4 linked regions of the Homo sapiens genome follow. The protein of the gene in region 2 interacts with the protein of the main gene of each other region in a pairwise test. Each region holds a gene or a part of one and is shown on either strand. Other genes may lie near its edges. The genes, in order: EFHC1, BRAP, NUMA1 and CCDC30.

Evidence for each region.
Region 1: the proteins of BRAP (region 2) and EFHC1 interact in binary tests that used the Homo sapiens proteins (3 or more experiments, as listed by UniProt).
Region 3: the proteins of BRAP (region 2) and NUMA1 interact in a two-hybrid assay, tested with the Homo sapiens proteins (2 studies listed by BioGRID and IntAct).
Region 4: the proteins of BRAP (region 2) and CCDC30 interact in a two-hybrid assay, tested with the Homo sapiens proteins (one study listed by BioGRID and IntAct).

Annotation. Positions count from the first base shown.
Region 1 is NC_000006.12:52,493,340-52,497,730, reverse strand, and holds the end of EFHC1 (EF-hand domain-containing protein 1), read right to left. Parts: 3' UTR 533-4,391; downstream 1-532. UniProt on the Homo sapiens protein: Microtubule inner protein (MIP) part of the dynein-decorated doublet microtubules (DMTs) in cilia axoneme, which is required for motile cilia beating.
Region 2 is NC_000012.12:111,675,923-111,682,956, forward strand, and holds part of BRAP (BRCA1-associated protein), read right to left. Parts: intron 5,914-7,034; coding exon 5,715-5,913; intron 3,419-5,714; coding exon 3,229-3,418; intron 1-3,228. UniProt on the Homo sapiens protein: Negatively regulates MAP kinase activation by limiting the formation of Raf/MEK complexes probably by inactivation of the KSR1 scaffold protein.
Region 3 is NC_000011.10:72,014,543-72,021,576, forward strand, and holds part of NUMA1 (nuclear mitotic apparatus protein 1), read right to left. Parts: intron 6,750-7,034; coding exon 6,662-6,749; intron 6,378-6,661; exon of another isoform or gene 5,784-6,377; intron 5,076-5,783; coding exon 4,952-5,075; intron 4,468-4,951; exon of another isoform or gene 4,439-4,467; coding exon 4,281-4,438; intron 3,972-4,280; coding exon 3,854-3,971; intron 3,759-3,853; coding exon 3,641-3,758; exon of another isoform or gene 3,286-3,640; coding exon 3,145-3,285; exon of another isoform or gene 2,817-3,144; intron 2,346-2,816; exon of another isoform or gene 1,989-2,345; coding exon 1,866-1,988; exon of another isoform or gene 1,719-1,865; coding exon 1-1,718. UniProt on the Homo sapiens protein: Microtubule (MT)-binding protein that plays a role in the formation and maintenance of the spindle poles and the alignement and the segregation of chromosomes during mitotic cell division.
Region 4 is NC_000001.11:42,466,283-42,473,316, reverse strand, and holds part of CCDC30 (coiled-coil domain-containing protein 30), read right to left. Parts: intron 196-7,034; coding exon of another isoform or gene 73-195; exon of another isoform or gene 1-72.

The sequences.
Region 1 (4,391 bases), on a different chromosome or scaffold from region 2:
AACTAAGGCTGCTGGTGCCCTGAGCAACTGATAATGCAAATGTGGACAAAGTGTCTGTTTTCTACTCTAGCCTGTTCATATGGACCAAATTTCAACAAGGAACTCAAGGAAAATTTGTACCTGCCGTATTTATGCTTTCATGTAAAAAAGGGTTGGGGGGAGGGGTGTCTTTTTGCTTTTGGTGAACTTTTTTTCAAAATCATTTTTCCACTGTTTCTGTCTGGTTTTAAAACAAATTACAGTTTTGTATGGATTTTTTAAATGTACATTTTGGAACAAATGATCAAATATTTTCTGAAATAACAATAAAAGGCAGAAAATTATCAGAATTGTCTCATAATTATTTCCTTGACGTGCTTTTATACAGTGATGCTTTTAACGTGGATGTTTACGTTTGCTTAAAGGAGTTTGCAATGAATTTTAGCCCTCATGTCTATTATTTTTCACTATATTAGTCATTTCTTATATATTTTGACCCGTATTTGTCCATTGTGATATGAATTAGGGAATTAAGGATGGAGAGTCAGTTATGTCAAGTGCTGGATAGCAATAAGCATCATTTTTATTTGACTCTTTAATAGTAAAGTGGAAAAGAGGTTTTCTTAACATGGGGTTTGTGGGTAGGAAGCTCCAGAAACAAGCACATCATCCTTGATGCCTACTATACTATGATGTTATTTAGCTTGGAGGAAATGGGGTTTCGTTTGTGTAAAGGCCAACAAATATGTTGGTGCTGACTAGAAGACATCCAAGTATTAGTAATAGTGGGGATTGCTGGTGTCACTTACATGGCTGCTGTTGGCTGTAGCTGCTTGCTGTGTTTACCAGAACCATCTTTCTTTGGAAAAAGATCTCAAAAGATGAGTGCAGTTACAGGTGGCAGTTAGTCAAGGACACCCATGGGGTGTGAGAAAGAGGAAATGTTTGCTTGAGGTGAAGGTGAGTGGTTCTGATGCATGGCAAGCTTCATTGTAGAGTTGGGTCCTGCTCTGCCATGAGAAGCTAGGTGAACTCAAGCAGTTAACCCTTCCGAGTCTTTTTGTGCATCTGTGTCAAAAGGGTTTCATGTTTTGTGGGGAGTCATGGTGAGAGATTTAGAGATACTGAATGCTAAGTTCATGGTACATATAAAGCACTCATATTGGCTTTTTAAAATGAACTTATGTGCCAGCAGGATACTCAGGAGTCACTTAACCAAGTGGATTCTCTGGACAACATTTAGAGACGTCTTCTCTACCTATGTGTCCCAAATACCCTCAAAGCCTATAGATATGGATTTGATACACCTTAATTGGATGGTATTTTCAAGGCCCCCTGATGGTGCAGACAAGGTACAGGCCCAGGTTTCTGAGTAGTGGCTAACTCACAGCCCATCTTTACCCGCAAGGCAGATTTTTATTAGTCCCAAAGCCGTAAGCACTATAAGCAGTCTTAGTCAAATGCTTCAGTTAGACCTGATAGCTTCAGCTACCAGTGCTAATCTTAATAATTCTCATTCTCTCTTTGTGTGTGTGTGTGTGTGGGTGTGTGTGTGTATTAGAATCTTTCAACTCCCTGGTGGCCAGTTTGAAGTGATGATCATTTCTGCTTCCTACAATATTGCTTGCTACAGGGTAATGCTCAGCTCCCTTCCACCACCTGAACCTGACACTCCAGATGCATGCCAGCTATGACTGTAGCATAAGGTAATTAGTGACATCTAATGGCTGCACTGCCATTCAGGATTTTAGTAGAAAAAGTGATTTGCTCTGACGTTTGTGGCTCCTATACTTGCTGCTTTGTATAAACAGGTGAGCAGCGAGTGTTTGGACACCACAGAAATGGCCTGCTGGCTTTGGTCTTTCATGAAATCTCTTTTATACCTTGTGTTGGTGCTGTCAGATCTCAGCTTCTCAGTCTTAAGTAAACTTAAAAGGAGATGCAAGGCAAGAAGTGGACAGCAAACTTAAGGAGTGTATGTGGACAGTGCCAACTTTATTGAAGACAGTTCCCTCTGAGACTACAGGCCTAGCTACTCAGAAGGCTGAGGCAGGAGGATTGCATGAGCCCAGGAGTTTGAGGCTGCAGTGAGCTATGGTCACACCACCGCATTCCAGTCTGGCAACAGAGTAAGACCCTGTCTCTAAAAAACAAACACAAAAACAAAACAAAACAGCCAAAAGCAGGCTAGAGGATGCTAAATGAGACTTTCCTAAATCTCCATTTTGGCTGAGACCCAAAGCTGAGGACAAAAATTGGCAAATATATCCATATGTTGCAGATTTGCTGCCGATCCATGAATGATTTGTTAAGGAGTAGCCCAAAGCTCCTCTACCACAGGAGGCAAGAGTGATGGAGAAAATATCAGAAAGTGCAAGCTTCTTGAAAGGGGCTGGAGTGCCTTGGGTCTGCAAGCTAAGTGAGGGTATACTTTAAAAGACTCAGGGTTTGACATGTGTCTGTCCCCTGGAGTTTGGAGAGCATAAGATTTGGGGTACCTGGTTCTCCCCTGAAACAGTCTAAAGGAAAGGGATTGAGCTGCCTAATTACACAGCCAAGAGAGCCATCTGGGTGAGAACATGGCGAGAGTGCACACCCTGGAAGGTGTGTCAGCCTGAAAGGGCCTCCTGGGAAGATCAGAAGGAGCCTTGGAGACCATACCATTAGAGCCGGGGTGATCAGGTACAGACTGGGTCCCGTCCATCTGAGAGTGGTGCACTGGGCAGTTTCCGGTTGGAAAGAGTTCTAAGAACTCACCAAAACGGGGCTCTGAGCAAAGGACATGGAATCAACCTAGGTGCCAATCAATGGTGGATTAGATTTTTTAAATGAAGTATATCTACACCATGGAATACTACGCAGCCATAAAAAATGAAATCATGTATTCTGCAGCAACATGGATGCAGCTGGAGGCCATTATCCTAAAGTGAATTGATGCAGGAATAGGAAACCAAATATTGCATGTTCTTACTTCTAAGTGGGAGCTAAACATTGAATACACATAGACATAATGATGGGAACAATAGACACTGGGGACTACCAGAGTGGGAAGGGAAGGAGGGGGTATGTGTGGAAAAACTACTTACTGGGCACTATGCTCACTACCTGGGTGCAATATACTCATGTAACAAACCTGCACATGTACCCCCTGAATCCAAAAAGAGAGAAAAGGTGCTCTGGGAGAAAGAGTCAGCCTTTCGGCACATGTCACTCAGACCTGGCCCCACATTACGACATTACTAGCCACAGAAATAAGACTTTGCCCTTTTTCTCTGGTTTCTACCCGCTTAACCTTTCCCAGAGCCTACATGGGCTAGAAACAGCAGCATGGCTGAATAGGAACAAAGGGAGCAGAAGACAGAAAGAAGGGAGTAAGAAGAAACCACTATCATCACCCCAGTATACACACACTCTTTACCACAGGCTTCTAAGCCTGGGGGAAGGACTGAGCTGGGCCAAGTAGGATAGAGCTTGGTAATTTTTAAGCTGAAAAAACTTCTAAAATACAGATAGTCCCCAACTTTCAATGGTCCAACTTATTTGCCTACTTTACAATGGGCTTATCAGGGTTATTAAATGTGTTTTCAACTTGTGATATTTTTTACTTACGTGAGTTTATTGAGACATAGCCCCATAAGTAGAGGAGCATCTGTACTTGAAAGAGATACTGTTTTAAATAGTTATGAGCGACTGAGGGTAAAACAAAACAAAACATGGGTTATTCCCAAGATAATAACCTGGAACAGAAAAGGAATCAACATAATACATTCACAGCCCTTTCAATAAGCTGGTTACAAGTGGCTGAGCTCGTTAGGGAAGGAAACACCAAGGGAAGTTCCCTAGAAGTTCTGAGAGGGCAAAGCAGTCTGAATTCTGTGTAACTCTATCCTCATTCATACCACATTTTGGGTGGCTTCGGGGAATTTGAGATAGCATGTTTAAAGATGAACTTAGTGGCTGACTTCAACCAAAGAGAAGCCCTGTTTGTAAAAAGCCAGTCAGAGCTCACCAGAGAATAGTAACTGCAACTAGTCTTTCCTTCCTCTCTCAAGGCCAGGCTCTCTAAAAGCAGCATTTTTCTAACCTTTTTTTTTTTGAGATGGAGTCTTGCTCTGTCACCCAGGCTGGATGGAGTGCAGTGGCGTGGTCTTGGCTCACTGCAACCTCTGCCTCCAGGGTTCAAGTGATTCTCCCATTTAAGCCTCCCGAGTGGCTGGGACTACAGGCACACGCCACCACACCTGGCTAATTTTTCTATTTTTAGTAGAGATGTGTGCACATATATGTATATACATAATATATATACACATATACATACTATATGTATACATATAAGCGTGTGTGTGTATGAATGTGTACATATAAAATATATATATATATATATATGTAGAGAGAGAGAAAGAGAGAGTTAT
Region 2 (7,034 bases):
AATTGAACTTCCTTCTGCTTTTCCTATGTCCTGAAGAACTGTAAATTCTCTACCCAAAGACCAAGTTTCCTAAGGGTCACACTACAAATTGGTAAGCACACCCCCCCTTTTTTTTTGATCTTTTAAAAAAAATTTTTAAGAAACAGGATCTTGCCATGTTGCCCAGGCTGGTCTTGAACCCCTGGCCTTAAGCAATACTCCTGTCTTGGCCTCCCAAGGTGTTGGGATTACAGACATGAGCCACCACACCTGGCCTCACAACTCTTTCAGCTAAAGCTAAGGCCAACAGAAATTCAAAAATTACCAAAGATAAAGAGAAGGCTTATAAGTCCTTATTTAAAAATCTGTGGTGAGGAAAAGAATAAAAACATAGTTAGGTGCCCAGGCTATGGAGTCAGGCTGCCTAGGTTTGAACCCTAACTCTGACACCTACTAGCTGTTTGGCTGCAGGCAAGTGACTTATCTGTGCCTGTTTCCTCAACTGTAAAATACATGGCATTTTTTTTTTTGAGACAGAGTCTCGCTCTGTTGCCCAGGCTGGAGTACAGTGGTGTGATCTTGACTCACTGCAACCTCCACATCCCAGGTTCAATAGTTTCTCCTGCCTCAGCCTTTCAAGTGGCTGAGATTACAGGCGTGCGCCACCACATCCAGCTAAGTTTTATATTTTTAGTAGACATAAGCTTTTACCATGTTGGCCAGGCTGGTCTCAAACCACTGCCCTCAAGTGTTCCGCCCACCTTGGTCTCTCCCAAAGTGCTGGGATTAAAGGCATGAGGCACTGCACCTGGCCAACATGGCATCGTTGAGAGGATTCAAGGAGACAATGCATGGAAAGCACTTGGCACAGGGTCCGGTCTCTAGTAAGTGCTTCAGAGTTGGTAGCTACTGAGCCTATTATTCTCACTACAGCCGATATTAGTTTAACTTCCAGTCTTACACCAAGAGGGTATTATTAGGTATTAGAAAATCCCTGTTAGGATGATAGGGATTAGCCCCTAAGACCCAGAGTTAGCAATAAATAATACAACTCATGATACCAAGATAAAGGGTTCTAGCCCCATGGGGAAGAGCATGCAGCAACCTGTTTCGCAGTCTCAGAAAAACATGTCAACTTGAGCAACCTTCACTTGATCAAAAGACACAAGGGGAAGGATAGTGCAGATGTACAAGGAAAATTCATTCACAGTAAATATCCACAGTACTACCTGCACATTATGAAGGGCAGTACTTGTTATAGGGAACTGTGTGGGTTTATTAAACAGGTGACTGTGGTGGATTTATACGACTTCAGACTATTTCAAAAGCCTGAGTGCTCTTCAACATTTTTTTCCCAATCTATTTCTGGGTCTTTTCCTTTGTTACTTGCTTATTGCCCTAGTTGTTAAGTAGAAACTGTAACAATACTGCTGTCATAGAATGTCTCACAAACAACCGCCTCCCTTCCCCACACCTTCATCCCACTCCTACTAGAAGAGGAACGCGTCCCTGGAATTAAAAGTGAGGGTGCCACACTCTTGCTTGTCATTTATGTCTAGCTATGTAACCTTGGGCAAACCATGTATCTCCCTCTGCAGTCACCCTCCTCATCTGTAAAACAAAGATAACAACACAGTTTCCGCAAGGGATTGTAGTGAGGATTAAATGAGACAAAGTGTATTGAACACTTAGCACAGTGAGTGATACAGAAGCCATCGATAAACGTTGGATATTATCATCATTATCCTTATTATTACATGTGCTACCAGACTGAAATGGCTTAAGGCACGATTTTCCCATGGTTTGCAAAGCTCCTTGGCACCCTTGGAAGGCTTTCTGATGGACAGTGAAAGGAGCTATTCAAGTGCTTTTCTGTTCTTAATGTCAACTTGTAAACTTTAAATCCAAAGGATAATTGAAACCTTTTAAATGTCTCCCTAAATGATGGGGTACTTTGTAAACAGAAAACATAATAACTGTGTACTCTCTTGCAGACAGAACTCCACACTAAAGCTTCTCTCTGGAGATCACAGAACAGGTACACTCTTCCCCCACTAAAAAGAGAATGAGGCCGGGTGCAGTCGCTCACGCCTGTAATCCCAGCACTTTGGGAGGCTGGGGCGGGCAGATCACCTGAGGTCCAGAGTTTGAGACCAGCCTGACCAACATGGAGAAACTCCGCCTCTACTGAAAATACAAAATTAGCCAGGCATGGTGGTGCATGCCTATAATCCCAGCTACTCCGGAGGCTGAGGCAGAATGGCTTGAACCCAGGAGGTGGAGGTTGCTGTGAGCTGAGATCGTGCCATTGCACTCCAGCCTGGGCAACAAGAGTGAAACTCCGTCTCAAAAAAAAAAAAAAAAAAAATGAAAGAAGTGGGGGTAATGGAAAAATAATAAGATGGTGTTAACTTCAAAAAGTCTGGGAACCACCGCTTTTCTGGAATAGTTACCGCTTGTTTAAAAAAACAAACAGGCCGGGCATGATGGCTCACGCCTGTAATCCTAGCACTTTGGGAGACTGAGGCGGGTGGATCACAAGGTCAGGAGTTCGAGACCAGCCTGGCCAACATAGTGAAACTCTGTCTGCACTAAAAATACAAAAATTAGCCAGGCATGGTGGTGCATGCCTGTAGTCCCAGCTACTCAGGAGGTTGAGGCAGGAAAATCGCTTGAACCCGGGAGGCGGAGGTTGCAGTGAGCCGATACCACACCACTGCACTCCAGCCTGGGCGACAGAGCGAGAATTCGTCTCAAAAAGAAACAAACAAAAAAACACACTAGATTTTTTTTTTTTTTTTTTTTGAGACGGAGTCTCACTCTTGCCACCCAGGCTGGAGTGCAGTGGTGTGATGTCAGCTTTCTGCAACCTCTGCCTCCTTGCAAAACCCTAAACTTCATACTCAATCTGATCTATAAAAAATCATGGGCATGAGGCCAGGTGCAGTGGCTCAGAGCATCTGTAATCCTAGCACTTTGGGAGGCCAAGGCAGGAGGATTGCTTGAGGCCAAGAGTAGCCTGGAAAACACAGCAAGATCTCATCTCTACCGAAAAAAAAAAAAGTGTATACGTTATAATTGTATTTCTGCTAATGAATTTAGAAATACATCTAGAATTACAATTATATCTTAGAAGACATCTCAAGAATCTTAAGTGCAAAATGTTGTAAATCACACACAGCTATCATACAGTTTGAATACCACAGTTTCTGTGGCAAAGAGATTTTTAATAAATTTAATAACTTTTACCTGTGCACGAAACTTTATCAGCACCATATATTGGTTGGGAGTAGAGTCTCTGATAATTTTCATTTGTTCAATTACTTCGTTAAATGGGGCAACAAACTTCATAAGGTCATGACTGGTCATTGCAGCAGGGACTGTGAGAATACACAGCATGGCACTGCGCCGCACATCTTCTTTTAAGGAGGTCATCTTACTAACAAAAAAAAAATTAGAGTGTCTTGAATAGATGAGGTATGGTTAGTTTAAACAATACTAGACAACTTTTATGTCCAAGAAAACAGGAAAAAATAAAAATTGTAATATTTCATTAATGAACTGTTCTATATTATACCCCCCATTGGACTTTTTAATCTTCAGTTCAACATTTATTACGGTTATAAATCTGCATTCGGTAAATTTGCAGTGTTTTACTCTCATCAATGTTTGAATAATAATCTGTCACTGGTGGCCAGGCACAGTAGCTCATGCTCGTAATCCCAGCACTTTGGCAGGCCGAGGCGGGTGGATCACGAGGTCAGGAGATCGAGACCATCCTGGCTAACACGGTGAAACCCCATCTCTACTAAAAATACAAAAAAAATTAGCCGGGCATGGTGGCAGGTGCTTGTAGTCCCAGCTACTTGGGAGGCTGAGGCAGGAGAATGGTGTGAACCTGGGAGGCAGAGCTTGCAGTGAGCCAATATCGCGCCATTGCACTCCAGCCTGGGCCACAGAGCAAGACTCCATCTCAAAAAAAAAAAAAAAAAAAAAAATCTGTCACTGGTTAACTTAAAAGCACAACTCTGGCTATGGACCTCTCTTAAAAGGCCTAAAAAAACAGCTCTAAATATACGAGAGAATTCTGTCTTTTTTTTTTTCAGAGTCTTGCTGCATGGTCTCGGCTCACTGCAACCTCTGACTCCTGGGTTCAAGCAATTCTCCTGCTCAGCCTCCCAAGTAGCTGGGATTACAGACGCGTGCCACCACGCCGGGCTAATTTTTGTATTTTTAGTAGAGATGGGGTTTCACTATGTTGGCCAGGCTGGTTTCGAACTCCTGACCTCGTGATCCCCCGCCTCGGCCTCCCAAAGTACTGGGATTACAGGCGTGAGCCACCACGCCCGGCAAGAGAGAATTCTAAACCATGAGGATGTAACTGAGGATTACAGGAAGTGTTACCAAGTTGAGATGGCTGGAATAGAGAGGAAAGAAAATCCTCCCACAATGCAATTTGTTTTTTGAAATGCTGCAAACTCACTTGACAGCTGTGATCCAGAATGGCTACCTGTGCCGGGTGCAGTGACTCACACCTGTAATCCCAACACTTTGGGAGGCTGAGGTGGGCTGATCACTTGAGGTTAGGAGTTCGAGACCAGCCTAGCCAACATGATGAAACCCCATCTCTGCCAAAAAAAAAAAAAAAATTAACTGGGCGTGGTGGTGTGCACCTGTGGTCCCAGCTACTCTGAGGCAGGAGAATTGCTTGAACCCGGGAGGGGAGGTTGCAGTGAGCCAGGATTGCACCACTGCACTCCAGCCTGAGTTATGGAGTGAGACCCTGTCTCAAAAAAAAACAAAACAAAAAACAAAACAAAAAACAAAACAAAAAACAAAATGGCTACCTGAATAGTCACTGTTTTCCCAGTAGAGATCTGGCAAATGAGTTAGCACAAGAACAGCCTTAAGGTATCAGCTACCATTACCCAAGAAGGTAGTGGCTGGGCTTGTGGATTATCTAGCCAAATGCTTCCTTTCCTTGGGGCTCTAGCAAGCTTTGTTTGAACCACAGAAAATGGTAAAAAAGAGGTAATAAAATTGTAATGAGTTAACTGACTTCTTAGCAGCCTCTTCAGTAAAGATTTGGTGGGGACATGAGACTACAAAGATGCTGTGGATCATTTTCTTTGTCCTTTCAATTCCCCATCACCTTCCATGCCTATCTGCTAAGAAAACATTTTCCTGGCAGGGCGCAGTGGCTCACGCCTGTAATCCCAGCACTTTGGGAGGCTGAGGCGGGCGGATAACCTGAGGTCGGAGTTCAAGACCAGCCTGGCCAACAGGGTGAAACCCCATCTCTACTAAAAATACAAAAAATTAGCTAGGTGTGGTGGTGGGCACCTGTAATCCCAGCTACTTGGGAGGCTGAGGAAGGAGAATCACTTGAACTCAGGAGGCAGAAGATGCAGTGATCTGAGATCGCGCCATTGCACTCCAGCCTGGGCAACGAGACCGAAACTCCATTTCAAAAAAAAAAAAAGAAAACATTTTTCCCACATATTCTCTTAAGTGTATCCACAAGCATTTCTTTTATAAGGAAAAGCTTTGACCCAATCCACAAGATTAATCAAATGTAAAACATCTGAGAATTCTCTAACATACAACAGACAAAAGTATTATTATTTTGAAGCTTAAAATACCCACTTTCCTTCAGGACAAGAGACTATGCTAAAGCAAAGCAAAAAAAAAAAAAAAAAAATTGACTAACCCCCAAGAAAAGAGGGTTTTCTTACTTTGTCTTATATAGGTGCATAATACCATGAACTATTTCAACTGATGGATTTCCACTGAAGAATGAAATCTGGTCTGGAAGCTGTTTGGACGGAGAATCTGGGGCAGCGTTTATGCATTCCTTACTGTGATCTTTACTTCTTTGCGCAGTGGGGGAGGCTTCTGAAGACTTCCTTTCTTCCACTGTAGTTTTTAGTTCATCTTTCACCAGTTAAAAAATAGCAGATTATAAATGGATAGGACATATGCTGAAGGATTTGAACTAGATTAAAATTTCAAGTCAGAGGAATAAACTTTGATAGAGTAATTACAATGTAATGCATTAACAGCTATTATTTGTAGAATAGCTGAGTTTATGAGGGCATCATACTTTAAAGCTCTCTTTGCTCCATAAAAATCTCATTAACACCCTCAGAAACTTAAGGATGGCTATTACATTTGGCAATACCATAATGCAAGCAGGTATCTTCTATCACGAAATCCTAACTGGGACAAACATTCAGGGCTACTAAGGTGGAAATCCAAACCTACCAGTTCTGACCACCTCCATGTTGGAGATGTAGTACTATCTACACATCCACTTCCGCAGATAAAATGAGCTGGCTGGCCGGGTGCAGTGGCTCATGCCTGTAATCCCAGCACTTTGGGAGGTCAAGAGGTTGAGACCATCCTGGCTCACATGGTGAAACCCTGTCTCTACCAAAAATACAAAAATTAGCTGGGTGTAGTAGCGTGCACCTGTAGTCCCAGCTACTTGGGAGGCTGAGAGAGGAAGGAGAATTGCTTGAAACCAGGAGGTGGAGTTGCAGTAAGCCGAGATCATGCCACTGCACTCCCACCTGGGGACAAAGTGAGACTGTCTCAAAAAAAAAAAAAAAAAAAAAGAAAAGAAAGAAAGAAAAAATGAGCTGGCAGAGCAGGGGAAGGCACGACATGTTTATTTGGACACATTAATGATCTGCCACTGAACTAGGTGGTAAGAAATTCTCCCTGGTAGCCGGGTGTGGTGGCTCACACCTGTAATTCCAGCACTTTGGGAGGCCGAGGCAGGTGGATCACTTGAGACCAGGAGTATGAGACCAGCCTGGCTAACATGGAGAAACCTTGTCTCTACTGAAAATACAAAAATTACCCAGGCGTGGTAGAGGGCATCTGTAATCCCAGCTACTTGGGAGGCTGAGGCAGGAAGACTGCTTCAGCCCAGGAGGCTGAGGTTGTAATGACCCGACATTGCACCACTGCACTCTAGCCTGGGCAACAGAGACCCTGCCTCAAAAAAAAAAGTCCCCCCCGTCACTGAACTGAATTGTCAACTCCAACTG
Region 3 (7,034 bases), on a different chromosome or scaffold from region 2:
GCGGCCCGCAGCCGTTCCAGCTCATTGCCCATCTGCTCTGCCTCCCGCTCCATAGCCTGCAGCGCTGCCTGTGTGCTGCAGAACTGGCGTCCCTGTTGCTCTTCCAGCCACTCGGGCTGTCTGTCTCCTGCCCTCGCAGGCTCCTTGACTAACTCCCGGGAGGCTGTTTCCTGCTGCTCACCTGCCTTGCGCACCAAGGTCTCCAAGCGGGCCACCTCTTTGCTGGTGGCAGCCATCTTTTCCTGCAGAGTGGAGAGGTCATCTGCAAGCTTCTGGGCCCTGACTTCCTTCTCTTGGACCTGCTGGAGTGCTCTGGCCAGGTTGGCATGGAGCTCAGCTAGTTCGTTCTGCTGCCGGCTTATCTGGAGCTCGCTGTGGGATTCTATGCCTGCCACCTTCTCCTTTGCCTCCTGCAGCTCCTGGCGGGCCTTCTCACATTCCTCCTTCAAAGTCATCAGCTGTTCCTGGAACATGGCGCCATACTGTGCCTCCTCTTGCTGGCTATCCTCATACCGCTCACGCCAGGCAGCTACTTCTTTGACGAGCTGCTCACACTCACTCTCAGCTGTGTGCTGGGCAGCCATGGCCTCTGCCAGCTCCCGCCGCAGGACTTCAGTCTCAGCCTGATGGGCCTCCCCAAGCTGCTGTAATCGAGCCTCCAGCCCCTTGCGCCCAGCCCTCTCTTCTTCCAGCTCCTTTCGTTCCCGCTTATGCTGCTCCACCAGGCTTCGGGTCTCTGCCTTCAGCTCAGAGATACAACGCTGCTGCTCTTCCAGGGCATCTGCAGCCCTGCGCTTCTCCTCTTCAAGGCTGCCCTTGGTGACCTTCAAGGACTCTTTGAGGGCCTGGAGCTGCTCCTGGAGCTGGTCCTTCTCCTGGGCCACCCTTTCTTTCTCAGTTGCTTTTTGCTGCTCAGACCGCAGCTGCAACTCTAGCTCTGCAACCTGGGCCTGGGCCTCATGCTGTTCCTGGCGGGCTGTCTCAACACAGGCCTGGAGTTCCTCCACCTTCCGGCTCAGCTCTGCCTTCTCCCGCTGGGCCTGTGTCACTGAGGTCTGGGCACTGTCCCGGGCTTCATTAGCCACCTGAAGTTGCTGCTGCAGAATCTCCAGCTTGGCAGCCTTCTCCTTCTCCAGTGCCTCCAGCTGCTTGAGAGCCGCATCCCGCTCCCTTAAGGAGGCCTCTCGCTCCTCTGCAGCAGTGGCCAGTTGCTGGGCATGGTCCTGCCTAGTTGCCTCCTGCTTCTCCGCTACCTCCTTCAACTGCTGCTCCTTCTGCTTCAGGCTACTGCTTAGCTGCTCCACCTGGTGGCGGAGGCCCTGGGAGGCCTGTTCTTGCTGTTGGAGGGTCTGTGCTAGCTGGGCCTGCTTCTCTTTGGCCTGCTGCTTCAGGCCAGCCAGTTCTTGATCCTGTTGCTGGATGGTGGCATTGAGTGTGGTGAGCTCAGAGGTCAGAGAGGCCACCTGGGCAGTCAACCGGGCCCCATGAGCCTGGGAGGCCTGCTCCAGCTCTTCCTTGGCCTGGCTGAGGTTGGAGATGGAGCTCTGCAGGTCAGTGATCAGGCTAGACAGCTGCTGCTTTTCTTCTTCGAAGTGGCCCCGCTCAGCAAGCAGCTTGGCTTCCTGCTGGCCTCGCTCAGTCTCCAGCATCTCTACCCTGGCTTGGAGCTGTGTGTTGTTTGCAGCAAGAGTGGCTGCCTCTTGCTTCAAGGTTTCCAGCTGGTGGTATAAAGAGACAAACTGGGATCAGCATGACTCCTCAGTCATCAAGACTCCTCTGGAAATGGAGGAACACCAGGAACCCAAATGTACTGAATGTGAGTCCACACCAACCAGCAGCACACAGGTCTTTCTGTGCATTCCTACCTGCAAGACATCACCCAGCACCTCGCCCTTCTCCTGGGGTGGGTTATCCTGCAGCTGGGACAAGTGTTCTTCCAGCTGTGAAAGTTTTCCCTGAAGGATTTCGTTCTTCTCTTCAAGGCATTTCTGGGAGTAAATGAGACCCATGTGAACAGAGAGGGGGAACAGGCACCAGATTACCACACAAGCCCTCATAAACATCAGCAAACATGGGGCCCATCATCTTGTTACCAAGATCTCCTTTTGCCCTGGCCTAGAAAAAAGCAGAAACCATGGAACTGGGAGCATGAGGGACCTGATTCTCTAGACCTAGTTCTAAGGCACAATAAAGTCATAATGTAACCTGCTTACTACTTCCCCAAGGCTGCTGAGTTTACTTCAAATTTCCTTACCGTATACCCTTCCTCAGATAAGTCTTGAGTCCTAGATTATCCAAATCACCACCAGCTGCCCACCATCCTCTGGGCAGCAATACCACTGGCAGCAGCTGCAGCAACCCCCAGTCCCAAACCCACTTCTTCACCACTGTTCACTAAGCACCTACAATAGGCTATGCTGGGTTCATCCCTAATTTTTTTTTTTTTTTTTTTTTTTTTGAGACAGAGTCTCGCTCTATCGCCTAGGCTGGAGTGCAGTGGCGAGATCTTGGCTTACTGCAACCTCCACCTCCCAGATTCGAGAGCTTCTTCTGTCTCAGCCTCCCGAGTAGCTGGGACTACAGGCATGCATCACCACACCCAGCTTATGTGGGAGGCAGCTACTACCATTCCTCTTACAGAGCAAGAACCTGAAGCAGATGCTAAGTGCCTTGATCAAGGGCTACATGGTTATTAGTAAGTGGCCAAATTGGGTTCTTACCAATAGTAACAATCACAACTGGTTCACTGAGAGCTTACTTTACACTACACGATGTGTGAAGTGCTTTACATACGTTTTCTCATAATAGGTGATGAGGCAGCTACTCGTTACTACTCCCATTTTAGGGAAAGGATGCTTAGAAAAACAGACTGATTAACTTGTCCAAGATCCACATCTTGTGAACAGCAGAGATAGGATTGAAAGGTGTACTATAAAGTGAGGGCATTGACTGGGGAAAAAAAAAATAAGTTAAAAAAAAAAGGTGTACTAGACTGAAGCCCACAATCTTTCAATTACAGCACACTATTGAACCTTGAAGAGAAAGCAACTTAATACCCAAAGGCCCAGAAGAGCACAGTGGTAAACTGGACTCAGCTTTGCACATGTGGTCAAGACTGTGGCTGTGACCCCAGCAGAGGGTTACCTTGTCCTGCAGGGCTGCGCTGAGCTCCTTCTCCAGCTGGGCCTGCTTCTCTAGCCACTCCTGAGTGGCCTTGCTGTGCTCCTCCGTCAGCTCATTGAGGGCATCCTGTAGCTGCTGCAGATGACTGGCAAACTCCCGCAGCTGAGACGGGCAAGTGAGAATCCCCATCACCCAGAGTCAACGCTGACCCCACCACTGCTGTCTGCTCCCAGAACCCCAGGGGCTGGATGCCTCCAATTATCCTGCCAACCCTCTACAAACCAATCACAGCCATCACACCTCTAATTCAGAACTACAAATCAACATTTAGGGTCACAGCCCAGTACCCGGGAAGCCGCCAATTATGGGATAAGGAAAGGGGCAAAATATGCAGGTCTCTGGAGAGACTGAAGCATAAGACAGGTGCTGGGACATTCTTCTCAACCCTCTCTTGGGGAGCCTTCCAGACCACCTCAGCCCTGAGGGGCCTCCATGCACACACCACCTTAACACCCACCTTAAAGGAAAGGTCTCCATTCTCCTCCGAAAGCTGGTTGATTTTGCGATCCATCTGGCTCTTCTCTGTCTTCAGGTCCTGGCACTGCTTCAGGGTTTCATGCAGCCGCATGGTAAGGCTGCGAGGGAGGGAAGCAGTGAGAAGAGAGTATGGGTTCCTGGCTGGGTGAGGGGAGGGGCTGGGGCCTGGGAAGGAATGCAGGGAGAGCTGTACCTCTCATTCTTGTCACGCAGCTCCTCAAGCTCCTTGGGCTCCAGTGGGCTGGCCGCCTGCTTCTCATTCAGCAGGGCTAGGCGGTCAATGCGCTGCTGCATCATGGCTATCTGTGCATCTGCCCAGAGTGGAGGGAGGAGGAGAGGAGAATCAGAACTATGTGCATGAGCGGAACTATGTGCACAGAACTATGTGCACAAGGGGAAGGGAGGAGACGGCATAGGGAAGAGGAGGAATATGGTATCCAATCTAAGGGAAAGAGAAGATGGGGACAAAGACAGAACCTAGCTTCCAGGAGGTCAGCCTGACCACAGGCCCAGGGCTGAGCTCTCAGCTCCAGGGGCCAGCAGAGGGGACAACATGGGAGGCCAGGGGACATCCTTCCGGCAAGTCTATTCACACATCTGCCAGTGTGCCAGCCACCTACCCTTCTCGGTGAGGAGCTTGCGGTTCTCAGCTAGCTCCAGCTCCAGCTCATCCCTATTACTTCTCTCATCAGCAAGCTGCTTCTTCAGCCGTCTCATCTGGAACTGTGGGGTCTGCAGGATATCACCCATGGGAGAAGCTGGAGAACCTGAGAGAAAGCTGAGGAGGGAGAAGGCCCATATGCATTGGTAAGCGCCTAAGATCTGAAGCAATCAGCAACAGGCAGCAGTAAGGGAGCGGGGTCTATGGAAGTGCGCACTAGCAGCTGGGAGGCCTGTGCACCTGGGTTGTTTGCAGTGCTACCTCAAGCCTCATGACATGATCTTGGGAAAACTTTTCTTCTCACTGCCTTAATTTCTTTGTCAGAAAAAAAAAAAGTGATATATTCTCCTTGGCTCTGCAGAGATGTGCTAAGAGAAGAGACTTCATTGTAGTCTCCGAGGAAGAAGGGTATTCCATAAACAGGGAACAGCTTTTGAGGGAGGCCTTCTGCACATGACAAATCCCAACCACTTCCCCCAGTTAATACTGGGTGAGGTGAGGAGATCCCAGATCTACCGGATACTCTAAGCACTCCCAGAGGCTGGTTAACATCTTAACTCTAGAAGTTAGGAATGTGAGGAATGGATGGATGCTGAGGCCCTATCCCAGGAGGAGAGGCCCAGAACATACTTGTTCCCACTGGAAGAGGAGGCAACCTTCTGTAGCTCTAGGAAGCGAATCTCCCTCTTGGCCTGGTGGCTAGGTGGGGAGAGCTCTTCAGGGAATGTGCTAGAACAGGTAGAAGGCACAGGAGCTGGGGGTAAGAAATAGACAAAATAAATCAACAAAGGTTAGTAAGAAGGTGTAAAGATTTGCACCTTTATGCAATTTGAGAACTCGCCTTAGTGGGAGTATATCCATGGATACTTATATGTAAACTACCAAGGAAGGCACTGGGCAGAACCTGAAACCTGGTGCCTGGGTTATCCAGAGTTCCGTGTCTCTAACCAAAATGAAGTGCAGGGCTTCCATTTCTACAGAGCATCATTACTCAGAGCACAGTGGAGTGACGGTGTCCTCTGGCTCAGAAACTGCACCAAGTGCTCAAGCTTTTTCCTCGAGTCCACACTGCAGAGACGGCTTGGGGAGCCCTGAGCAGGATCTCCTTGCAGCCCCCAACAACCTTTCCTATCAGAGCCATTGGCCACCATTTGGAATTCATCCCCCCTGAAGCCTTGCACCTCCAAAATGCCCTCCTCCTCAAAACCCTTCTCTTTCCGTGGTTTCCGTGACCCCTTTTGTAGGACTCTCCTACCTCTAATCACCCATTCTTAAGTCTCCTCATCTGCTCCTCCCTCCTCTACCCACCCTCTAAGCTCCCAGAGATCTGATGGGGCCTCTTGGCTCTGCCCATAGTGCCCACGGCTTCAGTGGCCATCCAATGCTGACTTGCAAACCTATCTTCTGGTCCAGAGCCTGCTCCTGAATTCTGGACTCACATTTCTAACATCTCCACCTGAAGGTCTCATGAGGAACCTGAATACAAGGAACATCAAACTCAACGGCTAGAACTCGCCTAGACCTCCTTCTTACATTCCTATCATCCACCAGCTGACCTCTTCATCAGAAGACCAGCAGAACGATCACTCTTTCTACTGTAGTACCAGCCGAGGCCATTGATATATTCCGTACTTAGATTCCTTATCATTATTTCCTGGTTTATGTATCTGCCTTTCCACCTAGAACATGCACTACATGACGGGAAAAACATTTTTTAAAAGACTGTGGGCCGGGCGCAGTGGCTCATGCCTGTATTCCTAACACTTTGGGAGGCCGAGGCAGGTGGATCACCTGATGTCAGGAGTTCGAGACCAGCCTAATCAACATGGTGAAACCCCGTCTCTACAAAAAATACAAAAATTAGCCAGGTGTGGTGGCATGCGCCTGTAATCCCAGCTACTCGGGAGGCTAAGCAGGAGAATTGCTTGAACACGGGAAGTGGAGATTGCAGTGAGCTGAGATCGCACCACTACACTCCAGCCTGGGCGACAGAGAGAGACTCTGTCTCAAAAAAAAATAAAAATAAAAATAAAAAGACTGTATTCTCAGCTTCTAAGCCTAGAGTAATGATTGTTTAAAAAATAAAAAACAAAAGTAGGTATGATCACTTGTAAATATCCTACATAACTGCTGCCAGGCAGCAAGGAGGAGCTCCATAGGAACTGAGATGATACAACATGGCCCAGAAATCGACCTACTCCATTACACACACTTTTCCTGAGCATCAACTCTGCCTTGTGTTGGGGACAGAAACAAACCCCCACCATACTTGACAACTCAGGATCCTAGTATTCCCCATTTCAGAGATGAGGGGATTCTCAGGAGTGTGTACCTACTTACCTTTCTGTAGGAAGTTCTCTAGGTCCTCATTAAGGTTTAGCCCGTCCTCATGGTCCAGCACAAATTTAAGAATGACAGCCAACTCAGCCTGGGCCACAGGGAGAAAAAGAGCATCACTTAGGTGTTAGGCCTCTGAAGGGATGGCTGCCAGGAGCTCCACCCTGGCAGTGCCAGTCCCCGGCTCCCTCATGCCCTAGGAGCCTGCTGGATCCCATTCTCCCTCTCAGAGCTGAGGTCCTATGACCCAGCCAACAACATTCAACTAGAGATATGTTCACCCCACTTGTCCCCTTCCCTCCCACCTCCCCTCAAGATGTACCGAAGTCAGAGTTCCTGACTGACTTAACTCCTGACCACAAGTGAAGTGACTGTT
Region 4 (7,034 bases), on a different chromosome or scaffold from region 2:
TATTAGTTCTCACTTCTTTTGTTTCACCCATGTGCTTCACTATAAGCTCTTCTACATCTGTGGTAGCAGTCCTCAGCCTGTCTTCACTGTGCTGGCTGGAATAAGCACCAAACAGAGTTGTTCTTCTGTAGTAGCAAGGGGATTGATTTCTTCTTTTTCAAGATGGTGAAGTATGTCTTCTAACTGAACTTTTCCCTTGATAGAAGAAATAAGCATATGTATATGAACACACACACACACACAACTGAGGATGCAAGATATCTATGTGGGTGCCACCTTAGTCTCCTTATTAGAGTACTAGTCTTTAGGGTACTAGCAATAGAAAGCTAGTAAGCTACCTGAACCTTCATCACACTTATGTATGTGTATGTATATATATCTTGGAAAATCCAAGATATTTCTAAAGAACAAAATATAGCTGGCAATACACATACAAAGCTGCTATGTGAGGAAAACTGAAAGCAGGAATAAAGAAGTCTATGTATATATGACTAGAGTCAGACTCTCTACAATGTATATTTTACTTTTCCTGTTGTTATCTAGTTATGAGCACTTAAATGAAACAGCTGGTAATACCGAAAAATGTAAGCTTTGAACAACTGTGTATCTTCTAAAATAACAAATGACATGATATACTTAATGAAAATTATGTACAATGGAAAAAAAAAAAGCTTTTCTGTCTGTTCTAAAGTTTGCAACTTTTATCTGAAAAGTCTCCCAAAGGGCTCTTGTTTCTTTTTTAAAGTCCAAAGAAGTCTTTGTTCCTTTTATTGCATATTTAGAAATAAAAGGATTCCTCTGGAAGCTAGAGAGGCCCCTAATTCTATACTATCCAGGATTTATTTTACTCACAGAATATGTCTTATAATTTATGTTGACTTCTCATTAATTCAGTTCTTTTCTGCAACTTCTTGGTCTAAGCCTGCTATCAATATCAATTTTTTTAGGTTGCAAGTAATCATGACATAACAGTTTGCAGTATGACAGTATATGAAAGATAAATATCTGCTGATCGATGAAGTGATATCTGTGTTACTAGAGCCACTAACTATTTTTTTTTCTTTGAGATGGAGTCTACCTCTGTTGCCCAGGCTGGAGTGCAGTGGTGTGATCTCAGCTCACTGTACCTCTGCCTCCTGGGTTCAAGTGATTCTCCTGCCTCAGCCTCCTGAGTAGCTGGGATTACAGGTGTGTGCCACCACACCTGGCTAATTTTTGTATTTTTAGTAGAGACGAGGTTTCACCATGTTGGTCAGGCTCGTCTCGAACTCCTGACCTCAAGTGATTAAAACCACTAACTATTAATAGGACTTGCTGTTCTAATCAAATACAACTTTTAACCAAGTTAATCTGACCCAAATTGCAGTGACAGACATAATTGTTATTGTACTTCAGTCCACATAAATATACTATTTTGCTTTTTAAAAGCAAAACCATATTTTTATTATTTTTCTCCTTGATTGCTAAGTTTTCTAGAGTCTTACCATTTCCACATCAACAGTATTTATAGATGATAAATGGTTTTAATTATCAGCTGATACTCATACTGATGAAAAACACCCAAGTCTGAATCCTGCACCTCTGTAGGTCCTCTTCATGACATATAACTAAAAATTTTCTTCTGTTCCCCCGACCTCCTTCACCTGGTCCCCACTCATATCTTCCCCCTTCTCCCTACAAGGTCTTTGAGCATCATACAGTTATTTGTGGTTTTAGTCCTGGGTAGCAGAGAGCCCAAGATACTAAGAATACATAGCATCCTATGAGGACTATTTGGCAATATGGAAAAATGCTAAGAAATATGTGATAATGCTAAGAGAAAAAGCACAATGCAAAAGTATTATTATAACTATGTAAACACCAGACACACAAAGAAAAGACTGGAAGCAAATACCTCAAAGTGCTAAAAGCAGTTGTGATAAACTGATGAGGTAATTAGAAAATAAATGCTTAAATTATTATAAGTCCTGTACTGTGGGTTGCTTGCCCAACAGCATAATCCCCATGCTGTAGGGGTGGAGTAGGGGAGTCTAAGGTTGGAGGATGTTAAAAGGAAAAGGGGATCAGGATATTGGAAAATACCTTTGGATCTGATCCTTGCTGATCAGTAGGACGGTACAGGCTTCAGGTCAATACTCAAGTGCACAAATCACCCAAGCTCCTTCACTTGACCATTCTCCCAAAGCCAGTGATCTTTATGCACATTTTATTTAGCTGCCCATCCTCATGGCTACACCTGAGTCCTTATCAACAGCCTGAGCTAATGTTGAAACCCTGCCATCCTAAACTCCATGTGTCTCCCTCTAACACCTTCTATGCTTCTTCCCCCTTTTTCTTAATTGTTGTAAATATACATAACTTAAAATTTACCATTTTAACCATTTTTAATAAAATTCCATGGGATGAAGTACAATCACAATGTTGTCTAACCATCACCACAATCATTTCCAGAAATTTTTCATTATGCCAAACAGAAACTCTATACCCATTAAACAATAACTTCTCATTCCCCTCACCCCCAGGCCCTGGGAATCTCTATTCTACTTTCTGTCTCTATAAACCTGCCTATTTTATACAACTCATAGAAATGGAATCATACAATATTTGTCCTTTTGTATTGGCTTATTTCATGCAGCATAATGTCTTCAAGATTCATCCATGTTGTATCGCTAATCATAATTTCATTTAAGATTGAATAATATTCCATTGTATGTACATAGCACATTTTATTTATACATTCACCTGTTGATGGACATTGGAGTTGTTTCCACCTTTCAACTATTGTGAATGATGCTGCTATGAACACTGGTGTAAAAGTATTTGAATCCCTGTTTTCAATTCTTTGGGGTATATACGTAGGAGTGGAATTGTTAGATATATAATTCTATGTTTAACTTTTTTTTTGAGGAACTGTCCTACTGTCTTCTACTGCAGCTGCACCATTTTACGTTCCTACCAGCAATGCAGGTCTTAATATCTTCACATCCTTGTCAACACTTACTTTGGGTTACTTTAAAAAAAAAATAGCCATCCTAATGGGTGTGAAGCAGTTGCTCTCTTAAACTAAAAGAATTCTACAATTACAGTGAGACCTCCAATCTCTGGACCATTACATCCTCTCTCAAACTACCAGATACTCTTTGGCTTCACTTGTTTGCCCCTCAAGCCTAAACCCAACTGTTGATCATTTCAATCCTTCACCAACATCCCCAGTTATCTTACCCCTTTGTCCCACCTTCCTTGCAAATCTCAGCCCTGTAAAAGTTCATGCATTTGACTATTATCCACCTATTTTAGGTTGCTGAGTGCCGATAGAGAACAAAATCAAACAGGCATGCAAATCTGAACCATTACAAATTCATGGCCTCTGGTCTGAGCCAAGCTTCTCAACCGCTGGGTCATTTATGAGTTGCTAGTTTCTGTTACTATTTCACTCAGCAACTATTCAAAACTTTTACCTCTCCCATCAAACTGAATATCTCATCTCTCCCCTCACTCTTGGCAAATGACCTTGTCTCCCAGAGAACTAGTAAAACAAAGGTCATCATAAAACAGTCAGTTGCTTCTCCTCATCAACATACCAACCTTCATCTTTACCAATCTTGTCCTCTTTCCCTTCTCAGTGGAAGAGCTTCCCATCCTCCTGATCAAGGTTAATCCCTTTACCTGTATTCTAGGCCCCATCCCATACTGCTTCCTTAGGGAAGCATTTTCTTTTCTGTATGTTCCTTATCTCCTTTTCTACTGTTCTCTTGTCCTCAGCTCAAGACATCTCTGGTCTTAAAGATACAAGAAATAACCTTCCTTTAGCCCCACCATATACCTCTCTAGCTACTGTCCTGTTTTGGACAATTTGTCTCCCACACTCCTATACTGTGGCTTCTGTGCTTGGCTTCCACACTCTTACACTTGCTGCATTTTGCCTTCTGCTCTTACCATTGTACTCAAATTATCAGTCAACAATGAACTCAAAATGCCATATCCATAGCTCACTACAGTTTCAAACTCCTGCGCTCTAGTGATCCTCCTGACTCAGCCTCATGAGGAGCTAGGACTACAGAAATGTGCCAACATGCCCATCTTATTTTTAAAATTATTTTTTTAGAGACGAGGGTCTTATATGTTGCCCAGGCTGGAATTGAACACCGGGGCTCAAGTGATCCTCCCATTTCAGCCTCTCAAAGTGCTGGGATTACAGGCGTGAGCCACTGTGTCTGGCCCTGTTTTTGTTTGTTTTAACATATGATCTCTTTGCTGTACGTCTTCACTCCTTCCCTGAAAGTTTTTTTTTTTTTAATTCTGTTCTGTGATGTCACTTTCTCCTGTTTTGACTCCTATGTCTCTAGCCTTTCCTTCTCAGTATGCTTCCTGGGTTCCTCCTCTTCCATCCCTTCAAATGCTGCCATTTCCAGGAAAACCCTGCCTTTAGCTCTCTGCCCTTCTCACTACCATGTGATTAATAGCTTGGGCACAGGAGTCTAATATACCTTGGCTCAAACCTTGGCTTCGCTACTTTGTAATTGTGTGACTTACACAAGTCAGGTAACTTCTTTAAATTTTTATTCTGTCTGTAGAATAAATGTAATAGTAATGCCTACCTCACTCTGTTGTTTGAAAGATTAAATAAGAATCTCTCTCTGCTATGCTCCAGATCAATCTAGAAGAAGTGGCAAGAAACAGAAACACATTGAAGTTGGAACAAATACAGGTGAGTGTGGCAGAGACTGCTGGTGTCCTTTAATATTTACTATTCCCTTCTTCCACAGAAATAAGATATTTAGTGTTTTGACTGATCACAAGACTGACTTCCTTACTGATAGATACAGCCAGGTGACCAAGTTCTGACCAATGGGTGTAAATGGAATTATGTGGTGCTTCCAGAAACTGTCCTTAAGGAATGTGATGCCCCCTTTCTTGCTCCTTACTCCTTTCTACTAGCTGGAATTCAGACAAGATAGCTGAAGCTTGAGCAGCTATCCTGGGCACCATAAGCTGGAAACCACATGCCATGGATGCTATAATATCAGGAGAGAAGAAATCTGGGTCTCTGACCATTTCAAGGTGCTGCCCCACCAGTTATAGATTGTTTTATTTTTGACTTTTATGTGGGAGGAATACATTTCTTTCTTTTTCAACGCATTATTATTTTGGGCTTTCTGTCCCTCACACAACCAGCTAATCCCAACTACTATATGAGGGTTATTGAGTGGATGAGGTACAAGGACATATGCTGGAAACTAAATGTGGCTACACAGGAATTGGATACAGAACTACACAGCCATTAACAGTCTCTCCTGACCCATGAGGTCTTCTGTCTCTGAGCTTCCCTGCGAGTTTGCTCCTCTTGCTTCTCTACAGAGAAAAACTTCCTCTGCTTGCTCATCAGCAAGGCTGAAAAGAACTATTCAAGTCCTTAGCGAATGTGACTTTTTAGATTAAGCCATTTCTATCTTTGTATCTCTTAGTTCAAATTTTTGAAAGAGACAATTGTTTGTTGCTCACCAAATAGGCTGTGTCCCCCTCTCCAAAGTTACCTGTATTTTCCCCATTCAGTCAGTTGTACATGGAATGGGTTGGAAGTAGAGGTACAAATATGGCCTCTGAGGGCCTACTCTTTAAGCAAGATTTGGCAGACAGATCCAAGTTCCAGAGAAGAGGCTATAAGCTAAGAGGGCAATATAAAATGAGTCTACTGTTTAAGACCAATGCGTGTCCAGTTTTCTAGTGAACAACTCAGCTTGAACAACCCATTCATCTTTCCCTCCTCCTTCTCTATTTCATAGTTAAAATCACTGTCAACATAGTTTCCCAAGCCAGAAACCCAGGAGTCATCCTTGATCCTCCTTCCTATTCATTCTACTCTGGTATGCAACCAGTCACTGAATTTGCAGTACTTCTTTCATCATTTTCTAATTCATCCTCTCCATGTCTAGGGTTACTGCCTTAGTTTAGGCTTGCCTACTATTTGTTCAATTTAGTATAATAGCAACCTTAACTGATGTTCCTGCTGCCAGGCTGGCCCTCATCCAATCCATTCTCAGCAAAACTCCAGACTGATCCTCCTGAATGCAAATCACTTGCTGCTTAACCTTCTTGTTGCTTTCATGTAGAGTTCAAACCCTTTAGCTTGGGACCAGATATTCTTCACAATCTGGTTCCTCCCAGTCTCTCTAGCCTTGTCTTCTGCCGCACCTTGACATTAGCCATTCATGTCAGTATACTTATTGGTCCCTATCATGCTGCTTATATTTCCACAAATTTTGACATTCAGGTCACTCTACCTGGAATGGTGCTATGAGATCCCCAAACAAACATTTTCCCAGTGGATTTATTGAGACCTGATGATTAACTTTTAAATTCTAGTAAACTAGATCTTGAAGTAATAAAACTAAATTATAAATGCTCTGACATCTAAACTGTACCTAAAATTGCCCACACAACAAAGTACATAAGAATACTATTCTTGGCCGGGCGCAGAGGCTCATGCCTGTAATCCCAGCACTTTGGGAGGCCGAGGCAGATGGATCACCTGAGGTCAGGAGTTCAAGACTGGCCTGGCCAACATGGGGAAACCTCATCTCTACTAAAAATACAAAAATTAGCCGGGCATGGTGGCGGGTGCCTGTAATCCCAGCTACCCAGGAGGCTGAGGCAGGAGAATCGCTGGAACCCGGGAGGCAGAGGCTGCAGTGAGCCGAGATCTCAACACTGCACTCCAGCCTGGGCGACAGAGCAAGGCTCCATCTCAAAAAAAAAAAACAAAACAAAACAACAACAACAAAAAAACTATTCTGTCCAAAGTAGATACTAAGTAAATGCTCATTAAATCTCTTAAAAATCCAATCTCTGGAAAGAAGTGCATCCTGAAGTAGGTTTAGGCCTCCAAAAACTTCTAGATGTAAAGAATAAGGTGGTAAAGCAAACTGAGACAAAGAATTTTAAACGAGAAGAGGACAAGGAGAATGGGTGCAGTCTCCTTGTTTTTTCTCCTGGTAGGTACTCTCCAACTGCATTGCAGGGGCCAGGACCCTATC